2 separate regions of the Homo sapiens genome follow, and region 2 is linked to region 1. The links come from fine-mapping of genetic effects on gene expression. Tissue or cell type: whole blood. Region 1 holds a variant in brackets; the other region holds the start of a gene. All regions are shown on one strand. Distances are from middle to middle.

What was found. PIP is the estimated chance that this variant, and not a neighbour inherited with it, causes the effect.
Region 2: VAV1 starts here. The variant in region 1 is fine-mapped to the expression of VAV1 in whole blood (TOPMed, PIP above 0.99).

The regions. Positions count from the first base shown.
Region 1 is chr19:6,823,245-6,831,244 of GRCh38, forward strand. VAV1 (vav guanine nucleotide exchange factor 1) reads left to right here. Exons shown (of 27, transcript NM_005428.4): 7 at 1,809-1,877; 8 at 2,059-2,162; 9 at 3,368-3,467; 10 at 4,832-4,927; 11 at 5,175-5,243; 12 at 5,378-5,464; 13 at 5,571-5,656; 14 at 6,542-6,674. Among named protein-coding and RNA genes, the nearest start is that of VAV1, 55 kb to the left of the region's middle. The variant G/A (reference allele first, on the strand shown) is at 4,233.
Region 2 is chr19:6,769,142-6,777,141 of GRCh38, forward strand. It overlaps VAV1 (vav guanine nucleotide exchange factor 1), which reads left to right and starts at 3,567. Exons shown (of 27, transcript NM_005428.4): 1 at 3,567-3,870. The coding sequence starts at 3,667. RefSeq lists a silencer at 3,386-3,635 and enhancers at 3,797-4,297, 4,406-4,455.

The DNA of each region.
Region 1 (8,000 bases):
CCTCCCAAGTAGCTGGGATTACAGGCATGCACCACCATGCTCGACTAATTTTTGTATTTTTAGTAGAGACGAGGTTTTGCCATGTTGGCCAGGCTGGTCTCGAACTCTGACCTCAAGTGATCTGCCCACCTCGGCCTCCAAAAGTGCTGGGATTGCAGGCATGAGCCACTGTGCCTGGCTTATATATCTATCTTTTAAAGATATATATCATTATTTAAAGATATATATATAAAGTATGTATAAGATATGTAATAGATACAAATATATATTTTATATATATTTTTTGTTATGTTAACCAGGCTGGTCTTAAACTCCTGGGCTCAAGCAATCCTCCTGTAATCCAAGCCCTTTGTGAGGCTGCACTGGGCCTCTTCCTCTTGTCTCTCTGTCTCTCTCTTTATCTCTCACTCTGTCTCTTTTTCCCTCTGGGTCTCCTCTCGCTACTTTCTTCCTCAGTGTGTCATTCTCTCCTTTGTAGCTCTTTATCCCAGGCTCAGTCTTTTTCTGTATCCTCACCTCTCCATTTCTTTTAAAAATAGCTTTATTGAGATTTCATTAATATACATGTAATCCACCCATTTAGAATATACAGTTCAATGGTTTTTGGCACACACAAGATTATGCAGTCATCATCACTGTCTAATTTTGGAATATTTTCATTTGTTTTGTTTTGGTTTTTTTTGTTTCTTTTTTTTTGATTTGTTTTGTTTTGAAATGTGGTCTCACTCTCCCATCCAGGCTGGAGTGCAGTGGCACGATCATAGTTCACTGCAGCCTCGAACTCCTGGGCTCAAGTGATCCCCCTGCCTTAACCTCCTGAGGAGCTGGGGCCACGGGTGCATGCCACCACACCCTGCTTAATTCTTTAATTTTTTTTGTAGATATGGGGTCTTGCTATGTTGCCCAGGCTGGTCTCCTACTCCTGGCCTCAAGTGATCCTCCTGCCTTGGCCTCCCAAAGTGTTGGGATTTTGGGTGTGAGCCACCACCCCGGCCTTAATTTTAGAACGTTTTCATCATCTCCCAAAGAAACCCCAAACTCTTTAGCTGTTCCCCTTCAATCTCTTATCTTCCCCCGGTCCATGGCAACCACGAGCTTACTCGCTGTCTCTGTGGATTGGCCTCTTCTGGACATTTCATATAAAGGGCATCACATACTATGTGGTTTATATGTGTCTGGCTTCTTTTGCTGAGCGTAGTGTTTTCAAGGTTCATCCACATTGTAGCCTGTGTCAGAGCTTCATTCCTTTTCATGGCTGAATAATATTCCATTGTATGGATGGACCACATTTTTTTTTTCTTTTTTGAGATAGAGTCTCACTCTGTCACCCAGGCTGGAGTGCAGTGGCGTGATCTCAGCTCACTGCAACCTCTGCCATCCAGGTTCAAGTGATTCTCCTGCTTCAGCCTCCTGAGTAGCTGGGATCACACGCATCTGCCACCGTGCCCAGCTTATTTTTGTAGTTTTAGTAGAGACGGGGTTTCACCATCTTGGCCAGGCTGGTCTTGAACTCCTGACCTCGTGATCCACCCACCTCAGGCTCCCAAAGTGCTGGGATTGCAGGCGTGAGCCACCGCACCTGGCCGGACCACATTTGAAACACCCATTTACCCATTGATAAGCATTTTGGTTGTTTCCGCTTTTGGGTTATTATGAATAATTTCACTGTGAACATTCTTGTACAAGTTTTTGTGTGGACGCGCTGCCTCTCTTTATCTCCCTCTCTCTGTCTCCTTCCCCTGTCTCTCTGAGACTGGTCTGGAGGAGGGAATCTTATCTTCCGTCATCTTTCTCTCCCTTCCCCGCAGCATTTCTTGAAGCCCCTGCAACGGTTCCTGAAACCTCAAGACATTGAGATCATCTTTATCAACATTGAGGTGAGCCGGCCGATCCCCAGCCCTCTTGGGTCTGTCTAGTGCGGATAACCTGCTGCCCCTACCTCTCCCTGGAGTACGGGGGTTGGGAGTTGAGCGGCATGGGGCGGGTGGATGACCCTTTCCTTCCTGGCCCCCTGAGCCCTGGGCTCTGGTCCCAGCCCTCACCCTTCCCTCCGAGTAGGACCTGCTTCGTGTTCATACTCACTTCCTAAAGGAGATGAAGGAAGCCCTGGGCACCCCTGGCGCAGCCAATCTCTACCAGGTCTTCATCAAATACAAGGAGAGGTGAGACCCAGCTGGCCAGACTGAAGCTCTGGGGTCACTCTGTCTTGCCTAGGCTGGGCATCTGAGAGACCTTACCCTCAGACACCACTGGACGGGGAGGACTTTTTGCTGTGTGTTCATGGGCGAGGGGCTGCCCATCTCTGGTTCAATTCCCAGCTCTGCTGTGTGGCACTGGGTAGTCACTTAACCTCTCTGTGCTTCTGCTTCCTCATCTGTACATCAGTGGGCCACAGGAATGTGCCTCCTAGGCTGGTGGTGAGGGTTGACTATACGGATGCACACAGGGCCTGGCACATAGTAGATGCTCAATAAGTATTTGTTAAATGAAGGAACATTGGCCAGGTGTGGTGGCTAATGCCTGTAATCCCAGCACTTTGGGAGGCTGAGGCGGGTGGATCATTTAAGGTGAGGAGTTCAAGACCAGGCTGGCCAATATGGTGAAACCCCGTCTCCATCGCCTAAAAATACAACTAAAATACAACTAAAAATACAAAAAACAATTAGCTGGGCGTGGTGGCATGCACCTGTAATCCCAGTTACTCAGGAGAATTGCTTGAACCCGGGAGGCGGAGGTTGCAGTGAGTCAAGATCATGCCACTGGACTCCAGCCTAGGCAACAGAGCAAGACTCTGTCTCAGAAATAAAAACAGGCCAGGCGTGGTGGCTCACGCCTGTAATTCCAGCACTTTGGGAGGCCGAGGAGGGCAGATCACTTGAGGTCAGGAGTTCGAGACCAGCCTGGCCAACATGGCAAAACCCCGTCTCTACTAAAAATACAAAAATTAGCCAGGCATGGTGGCAGGTGTCTGTAATCCCAGCTACTCGGGGGGCTGAAGCAGGAGAATCGCTTGAACCCGGGAGATGGAGGTTGCACTGAGCCCAGATCACACCACTGTACTCCAGCCTGGGAGACAAGCGTGAAACCCCGTCTCAAAAATAAATAAATTAATTAAATTAAATAAAAATAAATAAACATTGGGCAGAGACAATACCAGGTACTGTGGTGAAATTACTGTAGCATTAAATGAGATAATGCTACAATAGCCTCACATGGGAGATGCTATTGTTATGCCCATTTCACAGATGGAGAAACTGGGACTCAGGTTTCTTCTCCAGCGGGGAAGAGCAAGGCCAGGGCTGACGCCAGCCTCTGCCCGACCTTGATGCCAGTCACCTTTACCTGGTGGCCTGTCTTCTCCCTGTAGGTTCCTCGTCTATGGCCGCTACTGCAGCCAGGTGGAGTCAGCCAGCAAACACCTGGACCGTGTGGCCGCAGCCCGGGAGGACGTGCAGATGAAGCTGGAGGTGGGCGCCGGGCCACTTCTCGGGGGCCTCTCCCGCTCCTCCCCAGGCCCTGGGGGCAGCAGGGAGGACACTGAGTTGCAGATGGTCCACTTTCTGCTGCAGCCCAGCCAGAGATCCACCAAAGGACTAGGGAGGGAGGTACTAGCCAGCCAAGCAGAGGAAATGGAGAAGAACAGAAATGGGCTGGCCCTGGGTCTGGGCTGACCCCTGATATCAGGGTGAAGTCCTGACCCTGAACTGAGCTCTGATCTCACACTCAACCCCAGCCCTGGGCTGAGCCCTAGCACTGATTGTACCCCAAGTCGGGCTGAGCTCCCACTTCTCACTGAACCCCAATTCCAACCAACCCCTGATCCCAGGCTGAACTTGATCTTGAACTGAACTTCAACCTGGATCTGTCTGGTGGAAACACAGACAGGGCAGGGGTGGTGAGGACGGGGGCTCTCCAGATCTGTCCCCCTCCCCATCTCCAGCCCCCCTCAGCAGGCAGAATACTGGACCTCTATCCCAGGCAGCATTTGCCACATTCCAGTGGGTTTGTTTGTTTGTTTGTTTTGTTTTGTTTTGTTTTTTTGAGACAGGGTCTCATTCTGTCCCCCAAGCTGGAGTGTAGTGGCATGATCATAGCTCACCACAGCCTCGACCTCCTGGACTCAAGCAATCCTCCCAACTCCTACCTTGGCCTCCTGAGTAGCTGGGACTACAGATGCATGCCACCATTCCTGGCTAATTTTTGTGTTTTTTGCAGAGATGGGGTTTCACCAT[G/A]TTATCCAGGGTGGTCTCAAACTCCTGGGCTCAAGCGACTCACCCACTCAGCCTCTCAAAGAGCTAGGATTACAGGCCTGAGCAATCGTGCCCAGCCTCTTCCCATTGCTTTTTTGTTTGTTTGTTTGTCTTTGTTTTTTGAGATGGAGTCTCCCTCTGTCACCCAGGTTGGAGTGAAGTGGTGTGATCTCAGCTCAATGCCATCTCTGCCTCCCGGGTTCAAGCAATTCTCCTGCCTCAGTCTCCTGAGTAGCTGGGATTGCAGGAGTCTGCCACCACGCCAGCTATTTTTTTTTTTTTCATAGCAGAGACGGGGTTTCCCCGTGTTGGCCAGGCTGGTCTTGAACTCCTGACCTCAAGTGATCCTCCCGCCTCGGCCTCCCAAAGTTCCTTCCAGTGGTTCTCAAGCTGCCCCCACCTCATGGAGTCCTTTTCCTGTTTCCTTGGGGGCAGATATGATGCTTTGGCCTCTAGAAAAATTCCCACAGCTCTGGGGTGGAGAGCTGCTCACGTATTTATTCAAATCTATCTGCACCCACCCTGCAACTGGCTGTTTCTGGGACCTGCCTCAGTTTCCCCATTGTTCTCTGATTCCCCAGGAATGTTCTCAGAGAGCCAACAACGGGAGGTTCACCCTGCGGGACCTGCTGATGGTGCCTATGCAGCGAGTTCTCAAATATCACCTCCTTCTCCAGGTGCCAGGCACATCTCTAGGCGTGGGCTCCACGTACCTACTCTCCTGTGTCTATAAAAGTGGGGACGGGGCTGGCTTCTGGGGGTTGGGTCTCTAGGACGCTCGGGGATGGGTCACTGGGGTCATGTCTCAGCCTCCAGGGTCAGCAGTACGATGGAGGAGCTGGTGAGCTAGCATTGTTTGGAAGGCCCTCCCCGCAGGGAGAAGGGGAGGGGCCCAGGTGACGTCTGACGTCTTGGTTCTCTCAGGAGCTGGTGAAACACACGCAGGAGGCGATGGAGAAGGAGAACCTGCGGCTGGCCCTGGATGCCATGAGGGTGAGTGGGTGTAGGGTGCTGGTGACTCACCTGCTGCAGACACCCTCCTGGTAGGGGCTGATCCTCTAGCCGGGATTAGGTAGGAGCCTGGGTCGGCTGTTGGGGGGCCAGGTTCACCCCTGCCCCCTCCCCAGGACCTGGCTCAGTGCGTGAACGAGGTCAAGCGAGACAACGAGACACTGCGACAGATCACCAATTTCCAGCTGTCCATTGAGAACCTGGTGAGGCGGTGGAGCCGGGTGGGCCAGGGGTGTGGCCACGTGGGGAGAGTGTGTGTCTGGCTCCTTTCTTGGGAGACCCTTGCTAGACCCCCTGCCTACTGCATAGGACCAGTCTCTGGCTCACTATGGCCGGCCCAAGATCGACGGGGAACTCAAGATCACCTCGGTGGAACGGCGCTCCAAGATGGACAGGTGGGTGGAGTCAACATGGATCTGGGATGGAGCCTGGGCAAAGGGGTGGGACCAGGCTCCTAGATGGGCAGGTGGGTGGAGTCAACACAGATCTGGGTGGAGCCTGGGCAGGGGCGGGGCCGGGCTTCTAGATGGACAGGTGGGTGGAGTCGACATAGATCTGGAGCAGAGCCTGGGCAGGGGCAGAGCCAGGCTTCTAGATAGGCAGATGGGTGGAGTCAACACAGATCTGGGAGGAGCCTGGGCAGGGATGGTGCCAGGCTCCTAGATGAGCAGGTGGGTGGAGTCAACACAGATCTGGGTGGAGCCTGGGCAAGGTGGGGGCCAGGCTCCTAGATGGGTAGGTGAGTGGAGCAAACCATATCTGTGGTGGAGCCTGGGTAGGGATGGGGCCAGGTTTCTAGATAGGCAGTTGGGTGGAGTCAACATAGGTCTGGGGAAGAGCCTGGATAGGGGCGTGGCCAGGCTCCTAGATGGACAGGTGGGTGGAGCCAACACAGATCTGGGGTGGAGCCTGGGTAGGGGTGGGGCCAGGTTCTTATGTAGACTTGTAGGTGGAATTAAGATGAATTTGGGGAGGGACCTGAGTGGGGGTGAGGCAAGATTTCTAGACAGACAGGTGGTAGACCCATCCAGAGAAGGCGGTGGAGCCTTGATGGACAGGCAGGACAGGGCCAGCGAGGGGTATGGGTGGAGCGAAGACTGACAGGCAGTAGGGCCAATGCGGATCACGTGGGTGAAGTCAGGATGGACAGGTGGGCATGGCCAAGTTGGCCAAGGAGGAGGAGAAGGGCAGGGTGGGACCAGGATGTGGAGGAACTGGTCAGAGGGCTGATGGGGACAGTTGGGAAGAGCCAGACAGGAATGCGTTATCCATCCTTCCAGGTATGCCTTCCTGCTCGACAAAGCTCTACTCATCTGTAAGCGCAGGGGAGACTCCTATGACCTCAAGGACTTTGTAAACCTGCACAGCTTCCAGGTTCGGGATGACTCTTCAGGAGACCGAGACAACAAGAAGGTGGGGCTTTGACGCCGGAACTATGGGGTCCTCCACGCAGTCGGCAGCTTAGCCCTCTCCACTTGGGCATGTGCCTGTTTGCCAGACTACATCTACATGGAAGTGTGTGTTAATCCACTCAACAGGTGTTTTTTGTTTGTTTGTTTTGTTCTGTTTTTTAAGATGGAGTCTCGCTCTGTCGCCAGGCCGGAGTGCAGTGGCACAATCTCGGCTCACCGCAACCTCCGCCTCCTGGGTTCAAGCGATTCTCCTGGCTCAGTCTCCCGAGTAGCTGGGACTACAGGCACACACCACCACGCCCAGCTAATCTTTGTAGTTTTGGTAGAGACAGGGTTTCACCATGTTGGCCAGGATGGTCTCGATCTCTTGACCCCGTGATCCACCTGCCTCGGCCTCCCAAAGTGCTGGGATTATAAGCGTGAGCCCACTCAACAGTTTTTAAATTGAGCACCTACTATATCCAGGGCACTCTTCTAGGCACTAGGACTAAAATGGAAAGCAAAACAGAATTTTCATTTTGTTTGTTTGTTGGTTTGTTTTTGAGACAGTCTCACTCTGTTGTTCAGGCTGGAATGCAGTGGCACGGTCTTGGCTCACTGCAACCTCTGGCTCCCAGGTTCAAGCAATTCTCCTGCCTCAGCCTCCCGAGTAGCTGGGATTACGGGCACCCACCACCATGCCCAGCTAAATTTTGTATTTTTAGTAGAGACGAGGTTTCACCATGTTGGCCAGGCTGGTCTCAAATTCCTGACCTCAAGTGACCTGCCCATCTTGGCCTCCCAAAGTGCTGAGATTACAAGCGTGAGCCACTGTGCCCAGCTTATTTTATTTCTTGTATGGTACTTGCGTTCTTATGGGATGCTTTCTACAAAGAAAATAAAGTAGGTGGCTGGGTGCAGTGGCTCATGCCTGTAATCCCAGTACTTTGGGAGGCCGAGGTGGGAGAATTGCTTGAGCCCAGGAGTTTGAGATCAGCCTGGGCAACATAGGGAGATCCCCGTCTCTACAAAACATAAAAAAAAATTTAGCTGGGCTTGGTGGCACATGCCTGTAGCCCTAGCTACATGGGAGGCTGAGGTGGGAGGATCGCCTGTGGCTAGGAGTTGGAGGCTGCAGAGAGCTATGATTGCACTACAGCTAGGACCACAGAGTGAGATCCTGTCTCTATTAAAAAATAAATGAATGAAACAGGAGATGTGGCTGTGGTAGGTGAGGGTGGGAGGGGGAGCTATCTTACCTCCATTGTTCAGGGACATTCTCTGTGGAAGTGACATTTAAGCTGAGACCCCTCTCCCTCTCGGCTCTTCCTTACTTCCTTCTGCTTTT
Region 2 (8,000 bases), 54 kb before region 1:
GAGCTTTATCCTGTCTGCCTCCTTTTCAATCTTCGCATGCCCACTTTCTCCACGATGCTGCTTTGCGGTGAAAGTTACTCACCCACCATTTTACAGATGAGGAAATTGAGGCCTAGAGGGCCAACGATGCTTGGGGATGAAAAGTTTTGATGCCTGTAGGTTGCAAAGCAGGGAATTTCCAGACTGGGCTCCCCCGACTGGCCCTGGCAAATATGGAAGAGACTCCAGGCTCAAGAGGGGAAGAAAGTTTCTTCCTTATCCCTCACCGGTCTGGTATTGGTACAGTCAGAGGGTAGGGGCATGTTCAGGGAAGGGGTCTAGCGCCTCCTCGTGGTTATAATAATTTAAAAAGAGGGCCCAGCACTTTGGGAGGCCGAGGTGGGCAGATCACCTGAGGTCAGGAGTTCCAGACCAGCCTGACCAACATGGTGAAACCCTGTCTCCACTAAATACAAAATTAGCTGGGTGTGGTGGAATGCACCTGTAATCCCAGCTACTGGGGAGGCTGAGGAAGGAGAATCACTTGAACCTGGGAGGCGGAGGTTGCTGTGAGCAGATTAGCTGTGTGTGGTGGCATGCACCTGTAATCCCGGCTACTAGGGAGGCTGAGGAAGGAGAATCACTTGAACCTGGGAGGCAGAGGTTGCTGTGGGCAGAGATTGCACCATTGCACTCTAGCCTGGGCAACCAGAGTGAAACTTTCTCCTAAGAATAATAATAACGATAATTTAAAAAGAAACTCCATGATGAGGGCCACGTATTAGGTGGACGGGGGAGGGCCTGCTTACACTCTACTGGGGTGGAAGCTAGGGATGGGGGCAGAGAGACCTAATCTCATGAAGATGATTTCAGCTAATGATAAGGTAATGGCCGGGAAGCCAGTAAATGTTTGTTGAATGAGTTAATGAAAGACACTATTGGGCCTGGCACAGTGGCTCGTGCCTGTAATCCCAGCACTTTGGGAGGCTGAGGCAGGTGGATCACTTGAGGCCAGGAGTTTGAGACCAGCCTGGGCCACATGGCGAAACCCTGTCTCTACTGAAAATACAAAAATTTAGCCACGCATGGTGACACCTATAATCCCAGCTACTCGGGAGGCTGAGGCAGGAGAATCACTTGAATCTGGGAGGCAGAGGTTGCAATGAGCCGAGATTGCGCCACTACACTCCAGCCTGGTCCATAGAGCAAGACAAAAAAAAAAAAAAAAAAAGACACTATTGTAGTCTATAAGGAGAGGGATGATGGTGGCTTGGATTTGGGTGGTGACCATGGACATGGTGATAAAGGGATGGATTTGGGATAAATGTCAGGTGCAGTCAATAGAGCTTTCAATTATTTATTCATTCAACAGGTATTTAAGGGGCATGCCTATGTGTCAGGTGCTGCATAAGAGAGGGGTCAGTAGTGAACCAAAGAAACATAAATTCTTGAACAGACAATAAAGAAACAATGATGAGCGGGTGCCATGGCCCACGTCTGTAATCCCAGTACTTTGGGAAGCCGAGGTGGGAGGATTGCTTGAGGCCAGGAGTTCAAGACCAGCCTGGGCAACATAGTAAAAGCCCCTCTCTGCAAAAAAATTTAAAATTAGCCAGGCACAGTGGCACAAGCCTGTAGTTCCAGCTACTTGGGAGGCTGAGGCGGGAGGATCACTTGAGCCCAGGAGTTTGAGGCTGCAGTGAGCTATGATCATGCCACTGAACTCCAGCCTGGATGACAGAAGAAAGAGCCTGGGCACAGTGACTCAAGCCTGTAATCCCAGCACTTTGGAAGACCAAGGCGGGCAGATCACTTGAGGTCAGGAGTTTGAGACCAGCCTGGCCAACATGCTGAAACCCTGTCTCTGTGAAAATACAAAAATTACCTGGGCATGGTGGCAGGTGCCAGTAATCCCAGCTGCCTGGGAGGCTGAGGTCAGGGAAAACCTGGGAGGCAGAGCTTGCAGTGAGCTGAGATCATGCCACTGCACTCCAGCCTGGGTGACAGAATGAGACCCTGTCAAAAAAAAAAAAAAAAAAAAAAAAAAAAAGCCGGGCGCGGTGGCTCACGCCTGTAATCCCAGCACTTTGGGAGGCTGAGGCAGGTGGATCACCTGAGGTCAGGAGTTCGAGACCAGCCTGACCAACATGGAGAAACCCTGTCTCTACTAAAAATACAAAATTAGCTGGGCGTGGTGATGCATGCCCGTAATCTCAGCTACTTGGGAAGCTGAGACAGGAGAATCGCTTGAACCCAGGAGGCAGAGGTTGTGGTGAGCTGATCACACCACTGCACTCTAGCCTGGGCAACGAGAGTGAAACTCCGTCTCAAAAGAAAAAAAAAGAAGAAAGAAGCCTGGCGCGGTGGCTCACGCCTGTAATCCCAGCACTTTGGGAGGCTGAGGCGGGCGGATCATGAGATCGGGAGATCGAGACCACGATGAAACCCTGTCTCTACTAAAAATACAAAAAATTAGCCAGACGCGGTGGCGGACGCCTGTAGTCCCAGCTACTCAGGAGGCTGAGGCAGGAGAATGGCGTGAACCCGGGAAGCGGAGCTTGCAGTGAACTGAGATTGCGCCACCGCACTCCAGCCTGGGTGACAGAGTGAGACTCCGTCTCAAAAAAAAAAAAAGAAGAAAGAAACAAAGAGAGAAAGAAAGGAAAGAAAGAAAGGAAGGAAGGAAGGAAGGAAGGAAGGAAGGAAGAAAGGAAGGGAGGGAAAGAGGGAGAGAAAGGAAGGAAGGAAAAAAATAACTTAAAAAATCAGATTTGTTGGACAAAGATCAGGGCTTAACCTAGGGAGGTGGGTAGAGCTAATGGAATGCGGAAAAGGCTGTGATTTGAAATGAGGGGATTTAGGAAGACCTCATGAGAAGGTAGCATTTGAGCAAAGACATGTAGGGGTGAGGGAGCTAGCCATGAAGTTGCTTAAGGTGGAGGACACAGCCCGTGCAAAGGCCCTGGGGCAGGGCCGTATGTTCCTGGCATGTTGGAGGAAGAGCGAAGAGGCCCGTGTGGCTGGAGCACAGTGAAGAGGGGGAGAGAGGGAGTGGGGAGGGCAGGGAGGGAACTGGGCAATTCAAGCAGGGTTTTGTGGGCCTTGGGGAGGACTTGGGCTTGTCCCTGGAGGAAAGTGGGAGCCATAGAGAGTTGTGGGCAGAAGAAGGGTGTGCCCTGACTCAGATGCTCACAGGCAACCTCTGGTGGTGGCTGCAGGGAGGACAGACTGTGGGGTACGGGGGCTGGAGTCAGAAGACCAGCTGAGTGATGACGGGGCTGGACCAGACAGAGGAGGGGGTGAGAAGTGGGTGAATTCTGGGTATATTTCAGAGTGTCACTGCCGCCGTCTGCATATGGAGGAAGCTCACCCATCTCATAGTCTAGCTGGCCTGACTCCCCCAGCCCCCCAACTCCCCATGCCCAGGCCTGTGTCGAGTGGGCGGAAGAAAGAGATGTCAGATTCTGCATGGAAGGCGTGGGGTGGGGCTGGGCTGCAGGTGCTCCCCCAGCTCCCCCCCGCCCCATGGCTCCTCCTCCTCCACCCCCTCTCAGGGCGACAGTTACAGGCAAAGAAGAGGAAGTGGTAGCACTAGCTGTCGCTCCACAGGCGAGCAGGGCAGGCGTGCGGGCGGGTGGGTGGTGGAGGCTGCGAGGGTGCACGGCCGGCCCTGGGCAGGCGGTAGCCATGGAGCTGTGGCGCCAATGCACCCACTGGCTCATCCAGTGCCGGGTGCTGCCGCCCAGCCACCGCGTGACCTGGGATGGGGCTCAGGTGTGTGAACTGGCCCAGGCCCTCCGGGATGGTGTCCTTCTGTGTCAGCTGCTTAACAACCTGCTACCCCATGCCATCAACCTGCGTGAGGTCAACCTGCGCCCCCAGATGTCCCAGGTGAGCCCTCCGCGGGCAGGTGTGCTGAGGGTTGGAGACGGGGGTCCTCCCCGGGGCTGACAGTCGAGGGGCTGACGTGCTGCTCCACCTCTGGGCCTGCAAAGGAGAGGGAATATGCTTACAGGTCCAGGGCTGGCCCAGGGGGTGGTCACAATCTGAGATTCTGGGGTGGCCTCCCCAAGCTTAACAGGCTCCCTGTGTGGGTTCACGGGCCCTGAGTTGGCCCGCATCTGGGCTGAGAACTGGCAAACTAGGGGTTAACTCTCTCAAGCCCCAGGCGCCTCTACTGTGGTTCATGCCCCCAGATGGGACCAACCAGAGGTCTCGGGGGAGCTCCCCAGAACCCCCAGGGTGGCCATTGGGTTACCTGAGGCTTTGGACTCCTTTGACCCCCAGAGTCTGGATGTGGGGGAGGAGCCTCCGCCAACATCTTCCCCCACATGTGTCTCCTCCTCCCGGGCCCTGGGCCCCTTCCTTCCCCTTACATCTTCCTTCCCCTTGGCTTCCTGCCTGGGCCTGGGGCAGCATGGGGCAGGTGGGGGGCTGCAGCCCCAGGGATCTGAGCTTCCTCCCTGCATCCATCTCAGAGGAGATAGTAAGGCAGGGCCCAGTCCTGGGCTCAGAGAGTGGGTCCTGAGGTCTTGGTGCTTGGAAGAGCTGCATTTTCTCGGCAGGGATTTCTGCAGGGGCCCAGGCTGGAGGGGTGGTGGTGGATTTGACTGTGGCTGTATGAGACTGGCTCAGGAAATATATTCAAATCCCTATTTGAATGTGGTTGGGTGGGCGTGTGATGTGGCTGCATTATGTTGCTGTAGCATCATGTCTGGTTCCCCAGGGCTGCTGGGTGGGAACGGGGGACGGGGCGGGGCTGGTGGAGTCCCATCTCCTCTGGGATGAAAGGAGATACAGCCCTATCCTGGGGCCTGGGGGACACAGTCCTGCCCTGAGGTCTGAGGGGACAGCTCCCATCTGGTCCTCAGGCTGGCCCTGCAGATGAAGAGCTGGGAGGATAAGTTAATGGAGATGGGCCCATGGGGGTTCCTGGCGGGTGGTTTTCAGGGGCAGGGCCATTGGTGGAAGAGATCCATGCGCCTTTACTCCTTCTGTTTATTTTATTTATTTATTTATTTTTTTGAGACGGAGTCTCACTCTGTCACGCAGGCTGGAGTGCAATGGCACCATCTCGGCTCATTGCAAGCTCCGCCTCCCAGGTTCACGTCATTCTCCTGCCTCAGCCTCCCGAGTAGCTGGGACTACAGGCGCCCGCCACCACGCCTGGCTAATTTTTTGTATTTTTAGTAGAGACAGGGGTTTCACCGTGTTAGCCAGGATGGTCTCGATCTCCCGACCTCATGATCCGCCCACCTCGGCCTCCCAAAGTGCTGGGATTACAGGTGTGAGCCACCGCGCCCAGCCTTTTTTTTTTTTTTTTTTTTTTTTTAAAGACAGGGTCTCACTCTGTCGCCCAGGCTGGAGGCAGTGGTGCGATCTCAGCTCACTGCAACCTTAGCCTCTCAGGATCAAGCAATTCTCCTGCCTCAGCCTCCTGAGTAGCTGGGATTACAGGCGCCCACCACCACACCTGGCTAATTTTTGTATTTTTAGTAGAGACAGGGTTTCACTATGTTGGCCAGGCTAGTCTTGAACTCCTGACCTCAAATGATCCACCCACCTCGGCCTTCCAAAGTGCTGGAATTACAGGTGTGAGCCACTGTGCCCGGCTGCTCCTTCTGTTTTTTTTTATCTTATCTTTTATTTTTTGAGATGGAGTCTTGCTCTGTTGCCCAGGCTGGAATGCGGTGGTGCAATCTTGGCTCACTGCACCCTCCACTTCCTGGGTTCAAGTGGTTCTCCTGTCCCAGCCTCCCAAGTAGCTGCGACTACAGGCACACATCACCATGCCTGCCTAATTTTTTTTTTTTTTTTGTATTTTTAGTAGAGATGGGGTTTTCCCATGTTGACCAAGCTGGCCTTGAACTCCTGACCTCAGGTGATCTGACCACCTCGGCCTCTCGAAAGGCTGGGATTACAGGCATGAGCCACCATGCCCGGCCCTTCTGTTTCTTTAGTGCCAGGGGATTACACTGTCCTCAGCTGGGACAGGGCTTCCTGAAAGGAGAAGGCACTCCCCCCACCAACCTAAGCATCCATCCTCTGGCCACAGCCCATCCCAGCTTTGCCTACATTTGCTTAATCTTCTGGTTTCTAGGGCATGAGGAAGTAGTCATGGGATCTGTTAGGCCCCATCTGTTAGACCTGGCAGGGAGTCAAGCTCTCTGTGATGCTTCAATAGCAGCTAATGGGAAAGTGGATAGACTTAAGGATGAACTTCCATTCTTGTGTATGTCTTAGCTAAAGCTAGTTTTTGGATGAAGGACGAGGGTGCATGATGCTAATCCCTGGGAGAGCAGCTGCACTCCAAATACAGTCCTAATCCTCTGTAACAGGGAACAACGGGAACCCAGATGGGGTCAGGCTTTATGCAAGAGGGGACATTTGTGCTGGGGTTTTGAAGAGTAAATAGGAGTTTTTCTCATTGTTCTGGCTTCCTGTGCCCAGCTGTATCAGGCTCCAGGCTGGGCATCGGTGTACCCAGACCCTTTCCCTCTTCGAGGGGGCACATTCCTGCCCCTACCCATTTTGTTGCCCTTTGAAGCCCGGCCGTGTGTCTGGTATGTAGTGGGGACGTGTGAGGGAAGGTAAGAGGTCTTGACAAGAAGCCAGAGGAAGCTGCCACAGGAACAACCTCTCTGGGTTTCTGGGTGCCTAACTGTCCACAGATTGAAGCAGAGCTGTGAATGCCCCATGGGATGTGAAAGGGTAGAGGGAAAAAGGAAAGGTGCTCCTGTGGAGGAAATGGCATAAATAAAGGTGTGCAGGCTGGAATGAGAATTCTTCCCAGTTTCTGTCATTTCTCTTCGGAGTCCTTCTCTTTTTTCTCAGTTGTTTCTTGGGAAGAGGGTGGAAAGAACATATTCATCCATCCGTTCATCCACCCATCCACTCATTCATCCACTCATCTATCCCTCCAATTATCCATCCATCTACCCATCCATCCATCCATTTATCCATCCATCCATCCATCCATCCATCCATCCATCCATCCATCCATCTGCTCATCCATTCATCCATCTGCTCATCTATCCACCCATCCATCCATCCATCCATCCATCCATCCATCCACTCCTCCATCCATCTGCTCATCCATTTATCCATCCACTCATCTATCCATCCATCCATCCATCCATCTGCTCATCCATTCATCTATCCACTCATCCATCCATCCATCCATCCATCCATCCATCCATCCATCTGCTCATCCATTCATCCATCCACTCATCTATCCATCCATCCATCCATCCATCCATCCATCTACCCATCCACCCACCCATCTATCCATCCATCCATCCATCCATCCATCCATCCATCCATCCACCCACCCATCCACCCACCCATCCATCCATCCATTCATCCATTCATCCATCCACTCATCTATCCATCCATCCTCTCATCCATCCATCCATCCATCCATCCATCCATCCATTCAACCACCCACTCATTCACCCACTCATCCGTCCATCCACTCATCCATCCATCCATCCATCCATCCACTCATTTATCCATCTATCAGTCTATCCATCCATCTACTTTTCCATCCATGTATCCACCCATCCACCCACCCACCCATTCACCTATCCACCCACCCATCTATCCATGGATCCATCCATCCACTAATCTGTCTTTTTTATTTATTTGTTTATTTATTTACGGCGTCTCACTCTGTCACCCAGGCTGGAGTGCAGGGGCATGATCTCGGCTCACTGCAACGTCTGCTTCCTAGGTTCAAGCAATTCTCCTGCCTCAGCCTCCTGAGTAGCTGGGACTACAGGCACCCGCCACCACGCCCGGCTAATTTTATATTTTTAGTAGAGATGGGGTTTCACCATATTGGCCAGGCTGGTCTTGAACTCCTGACCTTGTGATCCACTCGCCTCAGCCTTCCAAAGTGCTGGGATTACAGGTGTGAGCCATACGCCCGGCCCATCCATTCATCTATCTATCATCCACCTGCCCACCCACCCATCCATCCATCTACTCATCCATCCATCCATCCATCCATCCACCCATCC